Regions from separate parts of the Homo sapiens genome. Here region 2 is linked to region 1. A link means that fine-mapping ties the variant in region 1 to the expression of a gene that starts in the linked region. Tissue or cell type: testis. Region 1 holds a variant in brackets; the other region holds the start of a gene. All regions are shown on one strand. Distances are between the middles of the regions.

Region 1 (11,377 bases):
CATCCTGTTATGATTTCACAGAACTAATTCAGACTTTCTCTTCTGCTAATGGCACTCTGATTCTTCTCTTATAAATGGAAAATTAAATGAGTGACAGAGAGGCTTGAATTTGGGTTGCTTTTTCTTTTTTCTTTTCTTGCTATTTTATTTTATTATTTTATTTTTTTACCAGAGTCTCAAAAGATATGGTAATTCAGCAATTCTATCTTTGGATAAATTGCTGATATCTTTAAAGTTCAAAGTCTGCTGGCTTCCTTCTAGATTTAGGTCTTCTTGGGTACTGACACTGAGAAAATGCCTGGAGGCCTCCTCCCTCCTGATGATAATACATTCCCCAGTTGCTTGAAGCTGGCTAGCATGATTTGTATCAGATTCAGAAATCTAAAAACTCCTGTTTACCTCTGTACTAGTTGTGCTGTGTGGAAAAGAATTTAATACTGGCTTCTAAGATGGTTTGATAATTTGATTATCAAATTTATAATTTTTTTATAGTAAAGAAAATAGGCATGTAGCTCTCTTTGAGTGCATTACAGAAGGGACTATTGATACAATGACTAGTACTTGAAATTTTTGAAATGAAGATATTCAGGAGCCAAGCTATTTTAAATTGCCTTGCAACCTGGGCAACATGCTTTGCAAAGTTTTCATCGGGGCTTCTCAAGGATGGGGTCTGTGTCTCTTATTTACTGATATATCCCAGGACTGGTACTAGTATATATGACACTCAACACAAAATTTACTTTTTCTGTGAAGTAATTACATTGTAGGGTTACAAAGCTTTGAAAAATGGGTTTGTAGCGAAGTGGAGACGAGGAAAACAGCTGTAGAAGTTCTTGACTGAGACAGCTACATAAGTGATATGAAACATGAACTTCCTCATAGTAGTAGCAGGTCTAACCACAAAAGCTCTCAAAAATTGAAGTGCAGAATGAGAACACACTATTATTTAGTTGTGTTAGCAGAAGCCTTGTGATTCTAACTCTGGTTGGTTGGTTTTAATGTAACCAAGTACCCCCATTCTTTCTAGGAAAAAGGGAATGGGTTACTTTTTTTTTTTTTTTTTTTTTTTTTGAGACAGGGTCTTGCTCTGTTACCCAGGCTGGAGTGCAGTGGTGCGGTGGTGCAATCTTGGCTCACTGCTGCCTCTGCCTCCCAGGCTCAAATGATCCTCCCACCTCAGCCTTGTGAGCAGCTGGGACTACAAGCATATACCAACATGTCTGGGCTAATTTTTGTGTTTTTCTCTTAGTGGAGACAGGGTCTCACTATGTTGGCCAGGCTGGTCTTGAACTCCTTGGCTCAAGCAATCTGCCTGCCTCAGCCTCCCAAACTGCTGGGATTATAGGTGTGCACCATAGCATCTGGCTGAGTTACTATTATTATTTTTTAAAATTTTCTATTTTCTCCTTTCCCCTGTTCCCTGCCTCCTACTCAGCATTTTAGAAATGCAAATATAACCCTTTACCTCCCCTTCACCAGGCAATCCCTACAGGGCAACTATATTTAACCATGTGCTCTAAGATGGAACTCTCCTTGAGAGTTAATGGTCAAGTTACAGACCAAAGGATGCCCACCTCGGAACTCTCACCCTCCAGGGAGTAACCTTGGAACTCTCATCGCCAGGAAGCCATGTCAAAAGCATGCCCACTTGACTACTTTTACAACTTATTTCTGCCCATGGAGGTGCCAACTCAACTCCCTGGTACCAAGCTAGCATGCTGACCCACCACCTTTTCTTGCTTCCTTCCCTGCCTTATAAAAGTACCTGCTTCCTGCTCCAAAAGTGAAGCACTACATTTAAAGACAGGATGCTTGGGCCTCTTCCTCTAAGCTAGCTTCAGAATAAACCTCTTTACACCAGACCTTGATCTTGTTAATTGGACTCTGCATGCAGTGAGCAACTAACATGCTGCTCAGGTACACTGCTATGGTAAATATTTATTCCTGGCCAGGGAGAAAATGATGCCCTGATTCCAACTTGACTTTGAACACATGCTTTGCCTTAGAAGAGTGGGTAGAACCCTCTTCAAACCACATAGGTTAACAAAGGAAAGGAGTAGATTCTCTCCTCCCAATTTTTGAATGTTATTACTAGAAGCAGAATGACTACACACTGGATGTCCAGAAACATGTACACATTTATATACTCACGCAGATGTCCATGATAGTTCATTGAGTCAGGCTGGTGTTTAACCACAAGTTGTGTCCACTCAAGTAAGAAACAGTGATGTGGCTGAAGAGAAGTTGTTATATCCAGAGAAAGAATACCTAAGTACTTACTAGCTTCTAACCTAATTTGTCTAGATTTTGGTTGCTGATATGAGAAAATATCTCATCTCTCTAGAAAGTGCTCTTATTTGAGTTTATAAAAGAATTTTGCATATCTAAGGTCCAAAATTCTATAAATTTGAGTATTTGCACTTAGATTTACTGTAACAGCATTCTCCCAGATATGTTAAAAATAAATTACTGTGTTTACTATTTCAAACACTGTGTAAAACATTTTATTTGAAAAATCTTATTTTTAGAAAAACCTCATAAGAGTGTATTTATGAGGATATTTTATTTTTTAAAAATACTGCCTCAAACTGGCATAAACAATAAAGGAATTCATTATCTTAAAGAATAGGATGTATGAAGGTAGATTGTCTTCCAGTGGGCTATGAGTAGGACTCCAGCGATTTCCTTAATTCGCCTGTCTGATTCAGCTTCATCTTTAAGTTACCTACCCTCATGGGTGCAAAATAATTGCCTTCAAACATAAAGACCATATCCTTCTGTTTATTTCTAAAGGAGAGACAACTTTCCCTCTTCCCCAGCTATGAAAAATTTCCTTTTATTTTGAGTCAGATAACTTAGGTCATGTGTACACCATAAAGATCAAGAGTTTAAAGTGTCCCTGGGAGAATGCCTACTGCTGATTAGATAAAGCATAACATGAGTTTCTAAGTCAATCTCTGGATTAGACATATCAGGACCCACTCCGGCAGATGGAGATAGTCACCTTCCTTTGAGTCATTTGGTCTGACTGGGGGATATGGTGGATGCCTGAACAAAATTAGCAAGAGGGTCCTAAATGCTATGGTGCCCATGCTGTTTGTCATCAAAACTGGGATACTTTTGAAAGTGACAAATGCTAAAGCATACAGAATGCCATTATAGCAGACATGAACTGAACTTAATTATCCAATGGTTTCTACTGAGTTGAACATCAACATTTTCTACTATAGAAAGCATAATCATAGCTGGTTTAGCAATTAAGACACAATGCCTCTAATGTTCAGATGCTATACATACTCAAAATTAATAAATAGGAATTGGGGATTAAAATTCTCACAAGTATTTTCTATTCATTTCTAGTTTATCTAGTAGACCACAAAGCAGTATATTCACCTGATATTTGCAGGACTGTAGTACTTTTTATGTTTCTCACATGGATATTTTATTTTCATTTTCTGTCTTCTATGTTAATACTACTATGCCAATAAGCATAGTTATTTCTACTATCTAGTAACTTAATCCATATAGTGATGCTTTCTATTCTACAGGAGAAATGCAGTTCAATGAGAAATTAACAAAACAAGCCAAACTCAAAGTTGCTGGCATTATAAACAGCAGTGCTATGATGGGTACCAGCCTGACTTAGCTTTGCCCTTATTGGCACACTGGCCCCACATAAGTGGGTCAAATATGAACTGACAAGGTGTTATACTCTCCAAAATGTCATGCATACCAAGTGTTAACAAAGTGTTTGACTTAGAAAGCCAATTAGGAGTGAAATCATACCTCTTCCTTTAACTATTTGCAGAGACTGGGTCAGTCACATCTTTTCTCCTATGGGATATAAGAAATTATTTTCAGATCCAAAGTAGACATTTCTAATTTAGTAACCTGAACTTCTTCCTTCATGGATGTTAGCAAATCAGATTTTTAGTTGTCTTTGACATAATTACTGTCAAATTTATGCCTATGGAAAGCTATTTCCTACGAGACACAAATAGCAAAATCCCTATAGTGGAGAGAGATTTCTAAACATTTCAGTACATTTCCAATTCTGCCCTGAGTCTGAAAACCGTTATTTGAAAACACTTTAGAGTATAACAAGTATTTCTCCAAATACTCTGAATGTCTGTTAGGTCAGCTCTTTTTGACAAGCCATTGAAAACACAACAAATGTGGATGCCCCTTCCCATTGCAGCACATATGATGGATTGTAAATGAATATAGCAAAGATGGCACCTCCCCCTTGAAACTAAATACACCCCAAAGCCATATAAGTGGGATGAAATAAGTCTCTATTTTCAAACCGTCTGCCACAGTTAGTACTGCTACTAATCAGTGTCACTACTACAATTATCTCTAAAGCTTTATCTAGAATAATATGAATTTTGGAGAGACTTCTTTGTAGCCAGGAGCACAAAATTTATGTGCTCGAAGAGAGAGAGAGGGAGACAAAGAGAAAAGGGGAAGAGCACAGAGAAAGACAGGAAGAAAGGATACACAAAAGAATAGATGTTGATAAGTGAAAGCCCTACTGCTCACCACACTGCTCAGAGTCACCACAATCTTTCACCTGGATTACTATATCAGCTTCTAACAGGTTTCTGTCTGGACTCACCCTTGGTCCTCCTGACCATGATACCAGTTATAAGTGAGAATCAGACCACAACTCTGAATTTCTGAAATCCCATTTGTATTAGTCCATTCTTACACTGCTATAAAGAACTGACCGAGACTGGATAATTTATGAAGGAAAGACATTTAATTGACTCACAGTTCCACAGGTCTAGAGAGGCCTCAGGATACTTAACAATCATGGCGGAAAGGAAAACAAACACGTCCTTCATCACATGGTGGCAGGAGAGAGAAATGAGTGCCCAGCCAAGGGGGAAGCCCCTTATGAAACTTACTACCAGGAGAAAAGGATGGAGGAAATCGCCCTATGATTCAATTATTTCCACCTTGTCCCTTCCATGACACTGGGGATTATGGGAACTACAAGTTGAGATTTGGGTGGGGATACAGCCAAGCCATATCACCACTGATGCTCCCCGCATTAAACACACACTCCAATGTTGAAGTCAAGTGACTGAAATGAGGCCCTGGCCTACCTCTTTCATTTTGTCCCCTCAAGCCGTGTCCTCACTTGCTATGCTCCATATGCCTTGGTCTTTCTTCGCCCTTCGCTTATGCTGGGTACATTTGCATCCCAGGTCTTTTGCATTTGCTGATTGTTCTTTCCTTTTTCTTCTTCCAATGCTTATTCTCTAAATCTTCATGATCTTTATACTGCCCTCCTTCTCATATCCAGGTTTCAGCTTAAACGTTCGTCATTCAGAGATACCATCAGACCAAACTATAAAATAAGTCAACCAACCCATAAAAGACAGTCAACATCTCCCATGTTAATTTCCACAATACAACCCTGTTTTATCTTCTTTGTAGTACTTCTCAGTTTCTGAAATTATCTTAGTTATGCTTGTAAATTATTTTCTACTCACTAAAATGTAATCATCTTTGCTGTAAGAACCTGTTCACTGGTATACCCCAATTCCTATAATATTACCTGGTACATAAGCTTTTGTAAAATACTTCTTGACTATTGACTGACCATTTCTCAATTCCAACTGGTAATAATTATACTTAGTATTTCAGAATATACTTTACTACTTATTTTAGACATTTACATGCTTACAGATGGGCTTGTGATTTTGCATTCAATAAT[A/G]CAGAATTTTGTCACTTTATTTAACCAGTACATGATCTGGGTATGTACTGTATATCATATAACCATTTTCTTATTGATGAACATTAAAGTAGCTTCCAATGTTTTCTATTATAAAGAATTTATGTTGCAAATAATATCGAGAAACTATTTTGTTTCAGTCGCTATTCTAAGTTTTGGGGGCAATCAGTAAACAAAAACACCTACCTACATGGAGCTTATATTCTCCTTAAAGGAAACATAACCATTAAGCTTCATAAATATGTAAATTATACAGTATGTAAAAAGCTACCAAGTGCCATGGAAAAAATAAGGTAAAATAAGGTAAAAGGAGAGTGGAATCCCACAATTAAAATTTTGTTTACCTATTTTGTCCCTAGATTAATTCCTGTTTACACTAAAAATAGTAATAAGTGGGGGAGTCTTCAGATTTCTTAAATATTCCTGGAGAGATGAATACAAAACTTTGGAATTGTTGTTAGCAAATCTGTTTTGTTTTTATTTTTATTCTGTTTTTAGAATTTTCTTTTCCTTGGATTTATAATATTTTATTAGTCTATTTAAGATATTTGCCTTTTCTTGTATTTCTGCTGGTCTCTCAATCTGAAACAATTTTGTTTAGTTGTTTTTCCAGCTCAGAGATTTTTTTCTCTCTATTATTTTATATTATATTCCTTCTGTATGTATTTTCCAAGTAGACAACTGTTGAAAATCTTAGACAAATGTTGGAACTCCTGGCTCTATTCTTCATCTTTCCATGTTTTTCATCATTTTGTTCTTTTAGTTCATGTTCTGGAAGAAATGCTCAGTTCCATCTTCTAAGTTAGTTGTTTAATCTTCTGTCATGTATCCCCCACTCCCTGCTATTTTACCTATCTATTGAGAAATTGTTCTTCATGCAGCTGCTTTTAACTTTCAAAAGGAAGTTGTTTCTTATCAAAAGTGTTTGGTTGTGTTTTAGTTTGTTTTCTTCAGTTGAATTATTCTAAAGAAATTTTGTACAAATATTTCATGTGTTTAAAATTTTACTTTTCCTTTTTACTGTTTAGTTACTTTCCCTTGGATGTTAATTTTGTCTGTGTTTTGATTTCAATTCACCTTGAATTTGTTGAATTTTCTCAAATGTTTGATTTTATGTGATTTCTTTATAACTGGAAATGGGAAACAGGATTGAAGAGCTTTGATAGAGTATATTTTTTCACCTTAATAATGTATTTTCTCAGCCCAGCATATAATCTTTATTTCTGAGCAGTGAATACTAATTATAAAAAGCTCTTTATTCATCAGGACAGATGTAGAATTGACCCATAACCAGGAGAAAGCTCTGTCAGTAGAAACATATCCAGAAATGACAGAGATGGTGAAACTATCAATAACAAACTAAGATGTTAAACTATTATAAATACATTCAATATGCTCATGGATGAAAGGGAAAATATAACAAGAAAAGAAATTTGAGATAAAAAATAAATGCCAGATGGAACTTGTAATGATGAAAAATAAATGAATGTATTATGGATAGAATTAACTGCAACTTAGATCCCGCAGGGAAAAAATTAGACAATTTAAATATAGGGCAGAAAATCATTTAAAGTGACTCACACAGGGAACAAAGATTGAAAAGAAATGGATAAATAATCAATAATTTGAAGTGGTCTAACACACACAGAATGGTAGCTCCAGTGGAAAATACAAAAAGAGAGGTAGACTTAAAAAAATAATGGTCAGGATTTTTGGTCATTTAAGGAAAGCTCTAAAGGGATCTAAGAAACTCAAGGAACTCTAAGCTAGATAAACACATAGAAAACCACACCAAGCTAAATTTTAACTGAATGTGCTGATACCAGTAATAAAGAATTTTAAAGGCAACAAGAGATTAAAATAACATTATGCACAGAAAGAACCAAGATATGAATGACTCCATAACAGAAGACAATGGAGTGATATCTTTAGAGTGCTAACAAATAATCAACTAGCATTCTATACCCAGCAATAATAGCTTTCAAAAGTCAAAGAAAAATGTAGACATTTTAGACAAAAATCAGAGAATTTCTCACCACCAGATCTGTACTATGAAAAGTGTTAAAGGGAGTGCTTCAACAGAAAGAAAAAAAAAACGTTAAAAAATTGAATCTATGCAAATGAGCAAAGAATGCTGAGAAGAAGGATACAACATGCATGTTGTTCAGGATTGACAACACAGAAAGAAAACCCAAGTTCAATATTCCTAGAACTGGAGAATCAGTCTTTCTGGGACCCTTGCCACTATTTTGGAAAAATTTGAGTCACTTAGTTCCTGTATGGCACTGGGAAACTCACTTAACTTTCTGTGCCTCAGTTTTTCTATCTATAAAAATGGGGATAAGGATTAAACCTCCTGTATAGTTATTTCATAACATATGCTAATCACTTAGTAAATGTTAGATTTAAAAAAAAAAAAAAAGTGAAGAACCCTTGGCAGCTTATCAAAAATATTAAATTCAGTCTTGGTATAAAATCAGTCAGGCTAACCTCAGATTTTCCAAATAATACATTGAATACTAAAAAGTATTAGAGCAATGTCTTTAAAATCCTTAAAGAAAATCTGACTTAATGATTGTATTTCCAGCCATTCAAGTATAAAGACAAGAATAAATTGTTGTGGCCATGCAATTCAGTTCCCATGAGTCTTCTTGAAGAAACTATCTCCTAAGGAACAAACTTCTGCCGACTAAGAGATGAATGGTTAAAAACTAGCAGAAAGGAAATATTTGACAATTAACATAAATGTAAGGAATATAGTTAATACTATGATTAAAAATAGTGATGATGGGCTTGGTGCAGTGGCTTATGCCTATAATCCCAGTGGAGGCCAGGGCAGGAGGATCACTTGAGGCCAGGAGTTTGAGACCAGCCTGGGCAACTTAGCAAAGCCCTTATCTCTACAAAATTATTTTTAAAAATGGGCAGGCATGGTGGTATGTGCCTGTAGTCCCAGCTATTCTGGAGACTGAGGCAGGAGGATCGCTTGAGACCAGGAGGTCAAGGCTGCAGTGAGCTATCATCACATCACTGCAGGCCAGCTTAGGCAACAGAGTGAGACATTGTCTTTTTCTTTCTCTCTCTCTCTCTCTCAACCTCTATCTGTCTATCTATCTACCTATCTATCTATCTAATGTAGCATTTGTATAACTAGCAAAATTTGAGAGCTCAAAGATTATAATAATTTTTGTGGTAATGTAGTTATGCCAAACTCCTCCTCTTTAACAAGCCAGATATAAGATATGTAAAGCTGATACATCAAACAATAAGAGTGAGTGTGTGTGTGTGTGTGTGTGCGTGCATATACACACACACACACACAAATAAAATTAATACAATCTCATGAAATCGAAGAATGAATAGAAAAGGACAAACATTTTGAATCAGAATTTGCTCATTGTAGGGAAACAAATTATTAAGACAGAGAAATTTAAATGCATCATACTTGCCCATACTACCTCTGCCACCACCAACAGGCCATAGTTCCTCATGCAGCTAAAGCCCCCGTACCCTGTTCAGTTACCCTTTATTGTTAGAAATAGTTGTATAACATATAAAAAAACCAAACAGTCAAAGGATAGCAATTGAAGGGTTTGTGGAGCTGGAATTCAGGAGCAGCTCAGTTGGACAATACTGGCTTGTGGTTTCTTGTGAGGCTGTAGTCAGATGTCATCTGCAACTCCAGTCATCTTTAGGCCTGACTAGGGTGTGAGGATCGCTCTCCAAGGTAGTTCAGCCATATGGCTGGCGAGCTGGTACTGACAAGGAGGTTTCTCTCCATGTTAAACTCTCTCCATGAGACTGCTTGTGTGTCCTTATAACTGGTAGCTGGCTTCCCCATGTTACTACTCCAGAAGTCCAGACATAATGTACTTCTCACCTGGTTTAAGAGGTCAGAAACTGTCTCTGATGCTGCATTCTACTGAATACAAAAGCCAACCCTATTTCAATGCTGCAGAGACTATATAGGGCTTTTAAAATATTGTGATGTGAAGGGTATTGGGACTTCCTTTGAAAGAGTAGAAGAAAGAAACGTCTCATGAAGTCTGTTCAAAACTAGTATATAAACAATTCTATTGAATTCAGTTGGCCAAACCAGGTCATAAGGCCAGCCCAGATTTAAGTTGTAGGGAAATGGACTCCACGTTTTAATGGCAGCACCGCCAAAACCACACTGCAAGAGATGTGGATACCATTGAGGGAATAGTTGTGCCCATTTTTGCCAAAACTCTACCACAATATTTTATATAAACTAAAATTAAACAAGATAAACACATATGATAGCTCAGCTGATAAAGATCTTGTAAGAAGTAAGAGAGAAGGAAAATCTCATTTATATAACTGTCCTAGGTTTCTCTGGTGTGACTTTGGTTGTGCTCTGTAATTTATTTCCATTCTTCAGTCAAAAAGTTTCACAATAAATTGATGTTTTCACTCTCTTCTCACAATGCTGCAGTAATTCCCAATTTGCCTCTAATGTGCAATTAAGTTCCTGATCATAGGTTTTAAGATCTTTTACTAATTTGAAAATTGACGGTTCATCACTTCCCAGTGGCCACATAATTGACATATTTTCATTTTAGTGCTTTGAAAGTCACAGAAAAAGAAAACACATTAGGCATCAATCCAATATGAATGCCAATCATCCTCCCTGATGTATAATAAAACTAGGGCCTTCACTGTTAATATCTTCTACCAATTAGTGTAAACATACATATACTTCCAATCTCTATATACATCTACATTTTTTTCCTATAAATTTAGGAATTTGTCATTTATATTTTCACTTTATATTTTTTCTTCCATTTGATTTCTGACAATTTGAGAAATGTGACTGTTTTTCAAAATGGACTTTGAATAAAAATCTCCCAATAAATGTAGATGGATTTAGGATTAAGCTACATCTCTTATAATTGAGACGACAATATTGAAGTATTAGAAAAATGGGCAAACTGCTAAAAAATATGACTACCATTGGGTTTATCACTCTGTCTTCACTCAATAGGACTATCACTTGTGATAACTCTGTATTTAAATGAACTGGGATGACTTTGTAATTTGGAGAAGTTTCACAAGAGAAAATTAAATAATTTAAAACTATTTTCATATTTGGTAGGCAGGCTAAGATTTTTTTTCCACCAGAATCTTCTTGAGTGATAAATGTGTACAACTGGAAAAAAAACTTTGATCATTTGATCCAGGATTGAAAAACTTTCTCTGAAAGGTACACATAATAAATATTTAGGCTTACAGGTCATAGGGTCTGTGATGCAAATATTCAACTCTGGTGTTGCAGTATGAAAGTAGTTATACACATACATACATGAAGGAACATGGCTATGTTGCAATAAAACACTATTTACCAAAATTGGTCCAAGAGCATTAGCGCACCAGTTGATTTAGTCCAGTGTGCTAATTTTTCAAATGAGGAAATGACTGATAGAATATTAAAATGATTGTCTAATGTCACACAGTAGTTTTAAAAGAATTAGAAAAAGAATTCAGGTCTTTTGAACTCCTACCCAGTACAATTGTCAAAATGAATGCTAAAATTTGTGGATTGAAAAAATATGGTGTCTGTATATAAGTGTAATAGTGTGTCAGCAGCAGCAGCAGCAGTAGAAATAGTAATGG
Region 2 (11,377 bases), 54 kb after region 1:
ACCTTTTTAGAACAGATTTTGTGGTTGGTTATTACTGTACAAAGCAGTACAAAAAAGTAATTTTCAAAATATGGATTTTGTTGCCTGGCTTTTAATCCTGCATCCTCCATTTGTAAACTGCAAAATCTTAAGCAACTTACTTGTGCCTCAATTTCCTCTTTCGTAAAATGTAGATTATAATGCCTATATTATGTGGATATTGTAAACATCAAGTGGGACAATGTATACAAAATACTAAGCATAGTGTCTTGTACACAAAAGCAGTCTAGTAAAATAGAATAGTGGCTATGATTAGTAGCTGATATGGTTTGGCTGTGTCCCCACCCAAATCTCATCTTCAGTAGTAGTTCCCATAATCCCCATATGTCATGGGATGGACCTGGTGGAAAGTAATTGAATCATGGGGGTGGCTTCCCCCATGCTATTCTCATGATAGTAAGTAAGTTCTCAGGAGATCTGATGGTTTTATAAGGGGCTTCCCCCTTCACTCTGCTCCCATTCTTTTTCTTGCCACCTTGTGAAGAAGGATGTGTTTGCTTCCCCTTCCGCCATGATTGTTAAGTTTCCCAAGGCCTCCTCAGCCATGCTGAACTCTGAGTCAACTAAACTTTCCTTTATAAATTACCCAGTCTCGGGTATGTCCTTATAGCAGCATGAGAATGGACTGATAACAATAGCTATCACTATCACTTACTATGTGAACCTGAATTAGCCACTTAATATCTCTGGACCTCCTCTTTTATATATAGCTTCTTATTCTGTATAATTAAAAAAACTGGATTGTTTTTTCTTATGGTTTATTACAGTGAAAGGATACAAATTAAAATTAGGAAAGGAAAAAGACACATGAAGAGAAGTTCAAGAGAAAGCAGGCAGAAGTTTCCAGGTATATCTTCTCAATGGAGTAAAAGAGGGACACATCATTAAGATAAGCTAATCTGGTCATATTGGCATAGTATGGCCCAAGGCCTGAGGCTCACAAAAACATTCATATCAGGTAGAATATTCCAAGGTGTTCAGAGATTATCTCCCAGGAGTGTGAAAAGAGGTCTTTCCTTAAATGTGCAGGCTTTGAGTAACTCAAGCCTGCTGAATTTACTCTTTCCTTGCCACAAACTAATATAAAATGTTAATAAAAGGGAAATTGGGTGCAGGGCATGTGGTACATCTGCATACTGTTCTCAAATTTTATGCAAATCTAAAATTGTAATTCTAAATCCAACTGGAGCAATAGATTATGTAAGTTGATAAATATCAGGCTTAAAGTATTTTAACACTTTTCTTCATCATTATTTGTTTATAATCAAAAGGGATTGCATCGTAAGGGATATTGTTTGCATTAGCCAATACATTGAAAATTGTTATTGTCTTTGTGATTGAATTTTTTCTCAGCAACACTTTATTCATAATAGTCAAAAAGTAGAAAAAAAATTCTAAATCTTCAATAACTTGTGGATAAATAAAATGGAAATGTTATTCAGCCATAAAAAGACTAAAGTACTGATACATGCTACAGCATGGACGAAACATGAAAACATTAAGCTAAGGGATAGCAGCCAGTCATATAGGACCAACATATTGTGTGGCTTATATGAAATGTCCAGAATAGGCAAATCTAGAGACAAAAAGTAGATTAGTAGTTGCCAGGGGAAATAGGATTGACTGAAAATGGGAATTATAAAAATATTCTAGAATTAGACAGTGGTGATTGCATAGTCTTGTGTATGTACTAAAATCATTGACTTGTGCACTTTTAGAAGGGTGAAACTTTAAAAATTATTTCTGTATATTGCATATGTAAAAATTATATTTCAATTATAAAATTATGTTTCAATTTTTAAAACATAGCTCTTACAAAATTTCAAGTTAAATTTTTGTAACCATATGCTCTGGTTTTTGTACACTAGATGGGAAGACATGTCCATTTTTTTTTTAAAAAATGTAATTCTAATCTAGTATACCCTTTATAAATCTTTAAGCTCCTTTCTTTCTTATTCCATTCCACACACACTACATGATATTTTATCATTATAACATATCATAAAGATTAAGAAATTAGGAACTCTTCCTTTTCGCAGATAGTCTAGCTTTGCTGCAGCAGTGAAATTCTTATTATGACTATCATAACTTAGTAGGTATTTTAACGTGAGGATAAAACAGATTGAGTAACCCAGTACTATAGACAAGAAATAGAATCCAATTGCTAGATTTCTACACCTCTCTTGTTTACAGCTTGATAAATTATTGCTATCATTAGTCAAGCAATAAATCTTGACCTAATTGAAAACAACATGTTTGAATTTTTCGGTTGCTTTTTTTTGTTTTGCATGATTACAGAATTGTGCGTAACCAGTGATATGATTATAATTACTCAATGTATGCAAGAAATCTGAACATTGTTTAATATAGAAAACATTGAAAACCTCCTTCTTTAATGGAATTTGATAACATATATTGTGTTGTGACAAACATGCTTTATTCCTCTAACAACAAAATTTGGATTATTTCCCTGAAGTGAAGTACAATATCTATGTATCTTGATTTAGGGATGGTTTCATTTCTAATCAATTATTTGTATCTTAATTTTTGCTGTCATCAAAAGAATCTATTGAAAAACTTTAAAAATTATTTCTGTATATTGCATATGTAAAATAGCCTTAATTGAGCAGCTTATCTTCCACTTGCAAATATGTGAAAATATCAGTATGTAAAAATAAAAAGAATTCTTTATCATTAGAAGGATGTACTTATTATTCTGAATGTCGTATGAAAAATCCTTTTTTGTTTTTAATTGTAGGAATCCAGTCCAAGCACCTCTGAACAACTGCGGTGTTCTAATCAAAACATGTTAGCTAGTAATATCACTTACATATAAGCAAAACAATGTTTATCTTTGCTTTCCGAATTCGGAATGTTAGGTTATCTTACCTGTTTAAACTTGTTTGGGAGAAGATACGGAGATTAAGCCTGTATATATATGTACATATGTTCATCTTCTCCCAGGCCTCTGAGCTTTTGGTTTTCTTATTTCTTAGAATCTAGGTTCTATTTGTAGAAGTAGATGCTGTACAGTAAAGAAAAAGGGTTAACCTTTGACTGTTTTGGTATGTTCCACCTACTATTCTTAAATCACAGGCAAATTATCATCTCTGCTCTCAGAAAAATAACATACACCAAACACCAAGCTCAGCAGGATTTTAAGTAGTCGAATATAACCATGTAAAACTGCTTTCACCAAATCATGACTTGATAATTGACATGGTGCTGGACTGCAGAAAAGACATGTTGTGTGTTCCTTTGGAAAAAGTTATCTGTGAATGTTCTGTTGCATTAAAAGATACTAAATAGTTGATCATGTAGTGATTAGTAACGCATGGTTAACAGCTAGTAAGAAGCAAGGTAGATTTTACTTTCAACTTTTTATTAATGTCACCTCCTCTGCTTAACTCTTTGAATCACCATCTCTGTTTATTCATTTTTCAGTCTGAAATTCACCAGAATGGCCCATTAAATTTTAGAATATATAAGGGCATAAATGAACTGCAAAATAAGAGTAGCTTTAACTTAAAGATTAAAGCGGAATGCAGTTTTTCCCCTAGATTTTAATTTTTGCTATATTTTTCCTTAAGGGTTAAAAGACTAAAAATATTGTAACAAGATACAATAATATGAAAAAAAAAAATCCTTGTTCTTCCTCCCCTGCCCTGTTAAATATCATATATTATTGGAAAAACGGTCAGTGTTAACAAACTTCAGCACCACGTGTGTGGGTGTGCGCATGCGCACACTGTTACACTAAACTGTATTCGTTATTAGGTAATTCAAGTAAATGGTTACATATCCATAGGTGTCCTGAGTAGCTTGAAATAATCTCCTTACCTCAGGATGGTGATTCTACATAGAAACCCATGGCAGGGGAAGCAGGAAACAACTTTCTTTTAAAGAAGAGAATGCATTAAAATAGTATAAAGCTAAATCAAATGGAACTGTTATGACAAACAGTTTGGGAAGTTAAATAATCTCCTTTTCCTATTTTAGACTTGTATAAGTTCAAAATAATCTTTAAGATATTCACACTAAATTGTTACCTATATAGTATCTTTTAATGCAAAAATATACAGTATAATTGAATATAATATCACTTTTATTGAATGCATGTCTTTCAATCTCTTTTAATAATCTCTTTTAATAAATGCTTACAAGGCTTTTGTTTTATGAGTTTTATTCCTCCTTGAGTTGAGAACACAGTTTCTTAAATTTGACCATGAACATTCCATTGAGAGACTGATGATAAATTCACACGTAGCCTCCCTTTAACTGACGGACTTAAACTTGATCCATGGATTTGCACCACGAACTTCAAAAGATGAATCACTGCTGTAGATGTGATGGCCTAATTCTTCCAAATGTGGCTCAGGATCAGTGGTAGCAAACTGGGCAGCATCATCAATTTCTTTCCTCACCTCAGCCCCAATTTCCTTTAATTCTTCCACAGTGGCGAGCTTGCTGTTTACCATTCTATCTTGGAGAATTATTATAGGATCCCTCTTACTTCTTACTTCCTGAATTTCTTCTCGTGTACGATAACTGACTCCAGGATCACTCATACTGTGTCCATGATAACGGTAGGTTTGCAGCTCCATCAGTATGGGCCCCTTTCCAGATCTACAGTAGTTAGCTGCAAATTTTGTTGCCTCACGAACACACAGAACATCCATTCCATCGACCTTTAGCCCAGGGATAAAATTGCCCCTCTTGTAGTAATCAGGGCTGGCTGCTGCTCTCTCAGTAGATGTTCCCATTCCATATAGGTTATTCTCACAGATGAAAACACAAGGTAATTTCCATAAAGCTGCCATATTGAAAGCTTCGGCTATCTGCCCCTGATTCGCAGCGCCATCCCCATATAAAGTCAAACAGATCTCATCGTTTCCTTTATATTTACAGGCCAGAGCAATGCCAGCGCCCAGGGGGCCCTGTGCACCGACGATGCCATTGCCCCCATAGAAGTTCTTGGTATACATATGCATCGATCCTCCTTTTCCTTTAGCACAACCTCCTCTTCTTCCCGTCAGCTCTGCGAGAATGGATCGGACAGAAAGTCCCCGAGTATAGCACACACCATGAGCCCTATAGGATGTAATGACGTGATCCGAGGGGTTTATGCCGGCCTCAAGGCCCACGCAACAAGCTTCCTGACCATCGCACAGGTGACAGAAACCGCGAATGAATTTCTGTTTGTACAGCTGATCTGCCTTCAATTCCATGCGGCGAACAGTCAGCATCATCCTGTAGTATTTAAGCCCCTCCGCCCTAGTGAGCACTGTAGTGACAGGGGGACCCTCTTCCAACAGATAAAGATCACATTTCTTAATTTCAAATGTAGCGTCATTTGAGGAGTTACGGGATGCCACCAGCACTCTGCGAGCTGATTTCTGGGCAACTCGCCTCAACACGCGGGAGATGAAGGCGGCCAGCATATTCTTCACGGAGTGCTGTAGATGGCAGCGGCGTCCCGTAACGACCGCCGGAAGGCCTGGCCTCGGCTCCGCGTCTCCTTCCGGTGCTCCAATGCGCTTGGCACCATCCGGGCAGTGCACACGGGTGATAGAGGCAGGTCCTGCACAGCACTGGGACATGGGCCACGCAGCCTGAGCTGACTGATTTGTACAGTGCCTGCCAGCTGTAAAATGAAGACTAAAAGTGATTTCCTTTTCTGGAGGACTTGGGCAAACTACAGGGCATCCTAATCGCCGTCATTGCTGAACCTCAATAATCTGAGTCCCTTTTCCCTGTTAAACCCTGGAGCACTGTATCTCAAGCTTTCCCGACAAGCGTATCAAATAGAAGAAAGGAACAAACTCAGTCCCTAAGGCACATGAGAGTTCTGAGAGTTAGTCCAAAGGTATTTCTTCCTACCAATATTTCTTTAATGTCTTGTTTTTGATCTTTAAAATAGGTATGAATATTTATCCTGCTCCATAATGTGCCATATGTATTTTAAGGTAACAACAAAGCTGTAAATTATTTGTAGCTTAATTAACTTTAAAAACAAAACAAGCACACGCACGTTAACAAAAACCCCTTTTAAAGAAAAGTCAGTACTCTCAAATAATATGCCACATTTATCCTGATGGCGTCTAGCACCTGTGACACTTGAAGTGGGGAGGGAAAATGTATACAAACCTCGGCCTGAGGATAACACTTTAAACCCAGTAATAAACTTTGCTTGGTGTGGGAAAATTGGAAGCAGGGAGAGAGGGTTGAGGTGCAGATTGTGGTAAAAAGTTTGTAGTTTGTGACATTCCACTTTTCCTTACTCTGTTTAATAATTCTGAATCTCTGTTTTTACCTAGTTTTATCCCTATTTTCTGACTACTTCACTTTTGCTCTTCCTTTTGTTTATTTCCTCTTTTTTTTCTTTTTGGTTTTCTATAAAAATGTCTTCAGCAGGTTTCCATAGACTTTCAGGTGGTATTTATTTATTTATTTATTTATTTTGCTTTCATATCAATCAAACTGGACCAGCCTTAGTCCAGGAAATCTAGAAACATGTTCTTATAGTGCCTTTTTATGTAGTAACCATTAGAAAGTGTTACTTCTTATAAAGTGACCCACCAAACAATACACAGTTTGGACTACAAGAGAGCAACAGAGTTTGCTTATGCCACTGGAAACCGTTCAATCACAAGAGAAGAGAAGCCTTAGACCAAGGGATACAAAGATCACATATCATTTCTCTCTTTTTGTGCTTTTACCAGGAAGGCGATTTTGTGCCCCAATAAGCCAACCCTAACTAGGGATCCTGTTTTATTTAGAATATTAAGCCATTCACCTTAATGCATGCTCTGTTTTATATCCATTGCCTATTTGCAAATGATAAATTCTTACCCAAATGTCCCTATTACATGTTCAAAGCAGCTGCCTTCTCTATATCTAGTTGCAGGTGTTATTTTGGGCACTTCTTTTAATATTCAGGAAGAAAAGAGAAAATAGCTTGTTAAAAAGTTAAGATACCTCTTAAAACTTGATCGTCTCCCCACCTTCTGAACCCAGCCATCATAATAGGCCTCATCTTTTCACTCAATTGAAAATTCAACTGTTGGAATTCATGGTCTTGCTGTGTTGTTTGCTCCCTCTTTGATAGTTAGCCTGTCTCTGCTGTTCTCTTTCATTCCTCCAGGTATTGGAGATCTCCAGGGAGCATTATCTCCATAAGAATGAGAAAAATGACACTGCAGGATAGAACAGTAGTGTTAATGGGTCAGTGAGTGACAGCTGAGCCTTCTCTCAGAGGTATCAGCCAGGCCAGTGCTGCCAGGAACACAAGAGCTGTACAGTAAAGTGTGCCAATTTAATCTTGTCACACGTAGCCTGGACTGCAAAGATAGAGCTCCCCTTAAAAGCCCAGTGTGTCAAGCCTAAACCCGACTCATGCCAGAAGAGAACATACAAAGATGCTAATTGGAAAATATCTGTACTACGGGTTCCCACAGAAGATGTCCTTTAAAAAAAAAAATTTCTCAACAGGATCTAGTTAAGATAATAAATAATAAAATGTGAAACTCCCATAGACCTCTTGGTCATCAGTTACCCTATATATCCTAAATTCAACTTAAAAATAGACATCTGAAATCAAACAATGTTGAAGCATTTCAATTAAACTGATTAATCTTGATAATGACTTTTTGACTTTTATTGCTATCCTTCCAAATCCATCTACATTTTTCAAAGAAAGAATGAAATTTCCAGACATCAGGGTAAAATGTTTATCCTGAGCTGTTGAGCTTCTCCTCTTACATGCCCCCCAGCTAGATAGGATTCAAGCTATTCACGGACAATAGAGCCAATGATGGTGTTCTTTTCTTCAAATGATTTATTTTTTGTCCTGTCCTTGTTCAATACTATGTTGATTACCAAACAGAACTAAGAAGTCATCTACGTACTCACCACAGAAATGTTATTTGCAATTAGAAACCCCATAAATTCTAAGTTTTTAATTAACACCAAATCTCACTTTTAATCTACTTGAAATTAAAGGAAAACAGATGAGCACTCTTATAAGGCCAATGGCAGACTTTACATTTAATTAATAAAAACCCCTATAAAAGAAGAGCCAGTGATTATAGTAGCAGTCATTCATGCCAGTGTGACAGCATTTCACATTTCATGTCTGATGGTTGATCCTACAGGGGTATTTCTGAATTTATCTTAAAAGTGTCACTCCCATGGCATCAATAACACATATTTTTTAAATAATAGACAAGGAAATGTGAAAAAGAACAGTGAGAATGTTTGAAGGATATTTACATTTCTTCAGTAATTATTGCACTTTTTCACCAAATGTTAGGTGAAGAAAGCTGTTAAAGAGTGAATATTTTCTAGATAAGCAATATCAGATCTCATTAGATGATTAGTGGCAGTGTATTTTTTTCATAGCTCTAAGATTTGGCAATTAAGAGTGATGAGTAAGAACTTAGTGCAAAAATTACAAGTTATATATATATAACTCTGAGAAGAATTTCTCTGTTGGAGAAAAGACACAATGTCAGTACCATATATTTTGAAAAATGATGACAATCAAGCAAAGTTTCTCTCTAATATTACAATAAGCAAAGCTATTCCAGAACACTTCAGAGGCTTGGGCAAACAATATTTTTTCTTGTATGATCTTACTATATTTGAAATATGATTAAAATAAAAATCCAGGATAGATTAATTCAAAGAGAAGACTTAATTAGAAATGAGAGGTAAAGTAGAAGTGCTTCTCATCCTACCCAGATAATGATGGTGTGAGAAAAAGGAAGACATTGTGGGTTAATTTTTAGTGTAACAGATGGACCACCATCTTTCTCCTGATAGATGACCGGAGTCATCTGAGTCATCATGCTCCTAGTGCTAAATCCACTATTTCAAGAGTTTGGGATGAGGGTCTAACATATATGATAAAAGAGATCATGAAGCAAAATTGTAAAATAAAACTTTGCGAACATTTTAATAACTTCTCTATAATTAGAGCTGTAATTGAATATGGCCAAGTGACATAAGAAGTAAAATTTTATGTATAAAATCTGTTGTCAAGATTTACTACAGTCTGGTGTCTCAACCAGTAGAGGACTAGAACATGAGTCAAGAGTTTTGAACTGATTCCTGCTCAATATTTTGAGTTGCTTTGTAAAACCACAATCCCCATTCAAAGGAAAAATCATTAATTCAATAAACATTCCTGACAAATCACAGCAGTTTCAAGAAAGTCCAAGTCAGAGTTAAATCTATTTGCCTGTTCTCCTAAAATCTTTACACTTCTTGGGCAAATCTTGTACTTAGCAGATTTTAATTCTCACATACTTAAAACCCCATGTCTCAAATTTTTATTCTGCAAATAAACATACATTTACCCCTAGTAACCTTGATTTTATTATACTAGCAATAAAGTATACACAAAATATGCTAGTAAAAATGAATGCTATATATTCAATATTGCAATGAGGGCTTCTCTCCTCTGTGCAGTCGTTTTAATATATTAGTTTCCTCTTAACTGTACCATGTTATTACGTTTTCTTTATATATGCCCTCCCACAACCCTTCTAATGACTTTTGGTGGAATATTAACTGTTTCTAATATCAGTATGCCCATGTAATAACAAAATTACCACGACTATTTCCTTTGACTTTGCCTCTTTGAAGAAGACCTAAGTCACTGACGGATGTTTAAAGAGAGAGGAAGGAATATTGGCAAAAATCCAGGGCACTGCTGCCCCCTAGAAGGAAGTTTGAGCAGCACATTTGACAAACACAAATCTTGAGAGAAACAGACTTTGAGGAAGATTGCTAATCATGCACCCCACTTTAAGAACCTACTGTTGACCACATCTTCAGTTTTCTTTGCCCTGTCTTACATCTAAGCTAGGGCACAGTGTTATCTATTACATCGTAAACTTAGACCTGTATAGATTCTGTCCAAATAGATTCATAGGAGATACCTGTGAATATGTACAGACATATAAGCACATTTTTCTTGGCAAATAATTTTTTTTAATAATGAGAATGAATTTTTCGATTATTACATGCATTAATTTGAGATATAAAACATCATAAATATTTCCCAGGTATGTGATAGAATAGACTTGCATCTCTTTCCTAGAGATACAAAGTTAAGGAAGTTTGTATCTCCAGGAAATACAGTTTGCTCATTTGACCCTCATATGGTTTAGTGTCTCATTCCCAATTTCTGGAAGAGGAAACTGAGGCCAAGGAATTAGGCAAATACAAAGCTAATTTAAAAAAGTAAAATATTTATTCTTCGTTTATTCATCATGTATGCATGAAGTGCCTTTCTTTTATATATCCCCTTTCTGTATTAAGTAGTAGAAGTACAATAATAACATACAATTAAATTTTCCTCTATTTAATCCAGTTTATATAGAGGTGTTGTGAGCTCTTCCAGATTTCCTGGCACTGCCTAGAGAAAAGGACAACTCATCATTGAAAGACAGAGGGAGAGACACATAAGCAGCTGTTATAGATGCAATAAAACTAATGTATTACATTCCAGGCAATGGTTAAAATGACAGTTTGTCTTTATTAGGATCAATGATGAACAAATTAAAAATAAAGTACTGTCAAACAGCAATATACAAAACAGAACACTCTAATTTTGTAAAGTTGTGTAGTCTCCTTTAATTTGGTTATACAGCAGAGCTGAAAAGGCACACTGGGAAATATGAAAATCAGGATCTCATAATTATACAATACATTATGAATATGAATGCAGTTTCTCCAAGCAACCTAAGACAATGCTATAGATGTTTTATGGAGCTTCTCATGCATGAGAATCTTTCTGTTCCCATGGACCCACTGTGCATTTAGATTCTAAGATATTTCCATATTACCCAACACTGAAAATCTAAAAGGCCATTATCGGGGAGCCTTAGAGACAATTTCAATTTAGAGGCCCAATGGTAAATGAAAATAGTGTCCAAGAAGAGCTTTTAAGCTTAAACATCTTAAGCACTCATCAAAACATAATCAGGCAACAAGATTATTGGGGTTCATTAGGAATTTAACAAGCTCTTGTCAGGGCTACCAGCTGGTCATGCTGCTTCCAATCTTCTGGACCCTGAATATCCCACTGAAATTTATGGTGTATTTCTCCAAAAGCTTTTAACTTTTCTATACTTTCATCTAGCTTTCTTCCCAGTTCATTTCATGGTAAAAATCACCTGTATTTATAAGAATGCATTACAACTTTTCCAAGGGAATTTCCAAGTTTCATATAACATGGAATTTCATATAATATGGAACTTTTCCATATTATATGAAAAGTCATATGGACTGCATTGGATCCTGACACTGATCAGAGCAGAAACGGACTCAG

The links. PIP is the estimated chance that this variant, and not a neighbour inherited with it, causes the effect.
Region 2: PDHA2 starts here. The variant in region 1 is fine-mapped to the expression of PDHA2 in testis (GTEx, PIP 0.98).

Annotation. Positions count from the first base shown.
Region 1 is chr4:95,887,940-95,899,316 of GRCh38, reverse strand. No RefSeq gene overlaps it. Among named protein-coding and RNA genes, the nearest start is that of PDHA2, 54 kb to the right of the region's middle. The variant A/G (reference allele first, on the strand shown) is at 5,726.
Region 2 is chr4:95,834,254-95,845,630 of GRCh38, reverse strand. It overlaps PDHA2 (pyruvate dehydrogenase E1 subunit alpha 2), which reads right to left and starts at 5,538. Exons shown (of 1, transcript NM_005390.5): 1 at 4,167-5,538. The coding sequence starts at 5,480. The coding sequence ends at 4,314. RefSeq lists enhancers at 5,020-5,519, 5,520-6,021, 6,877-7,479.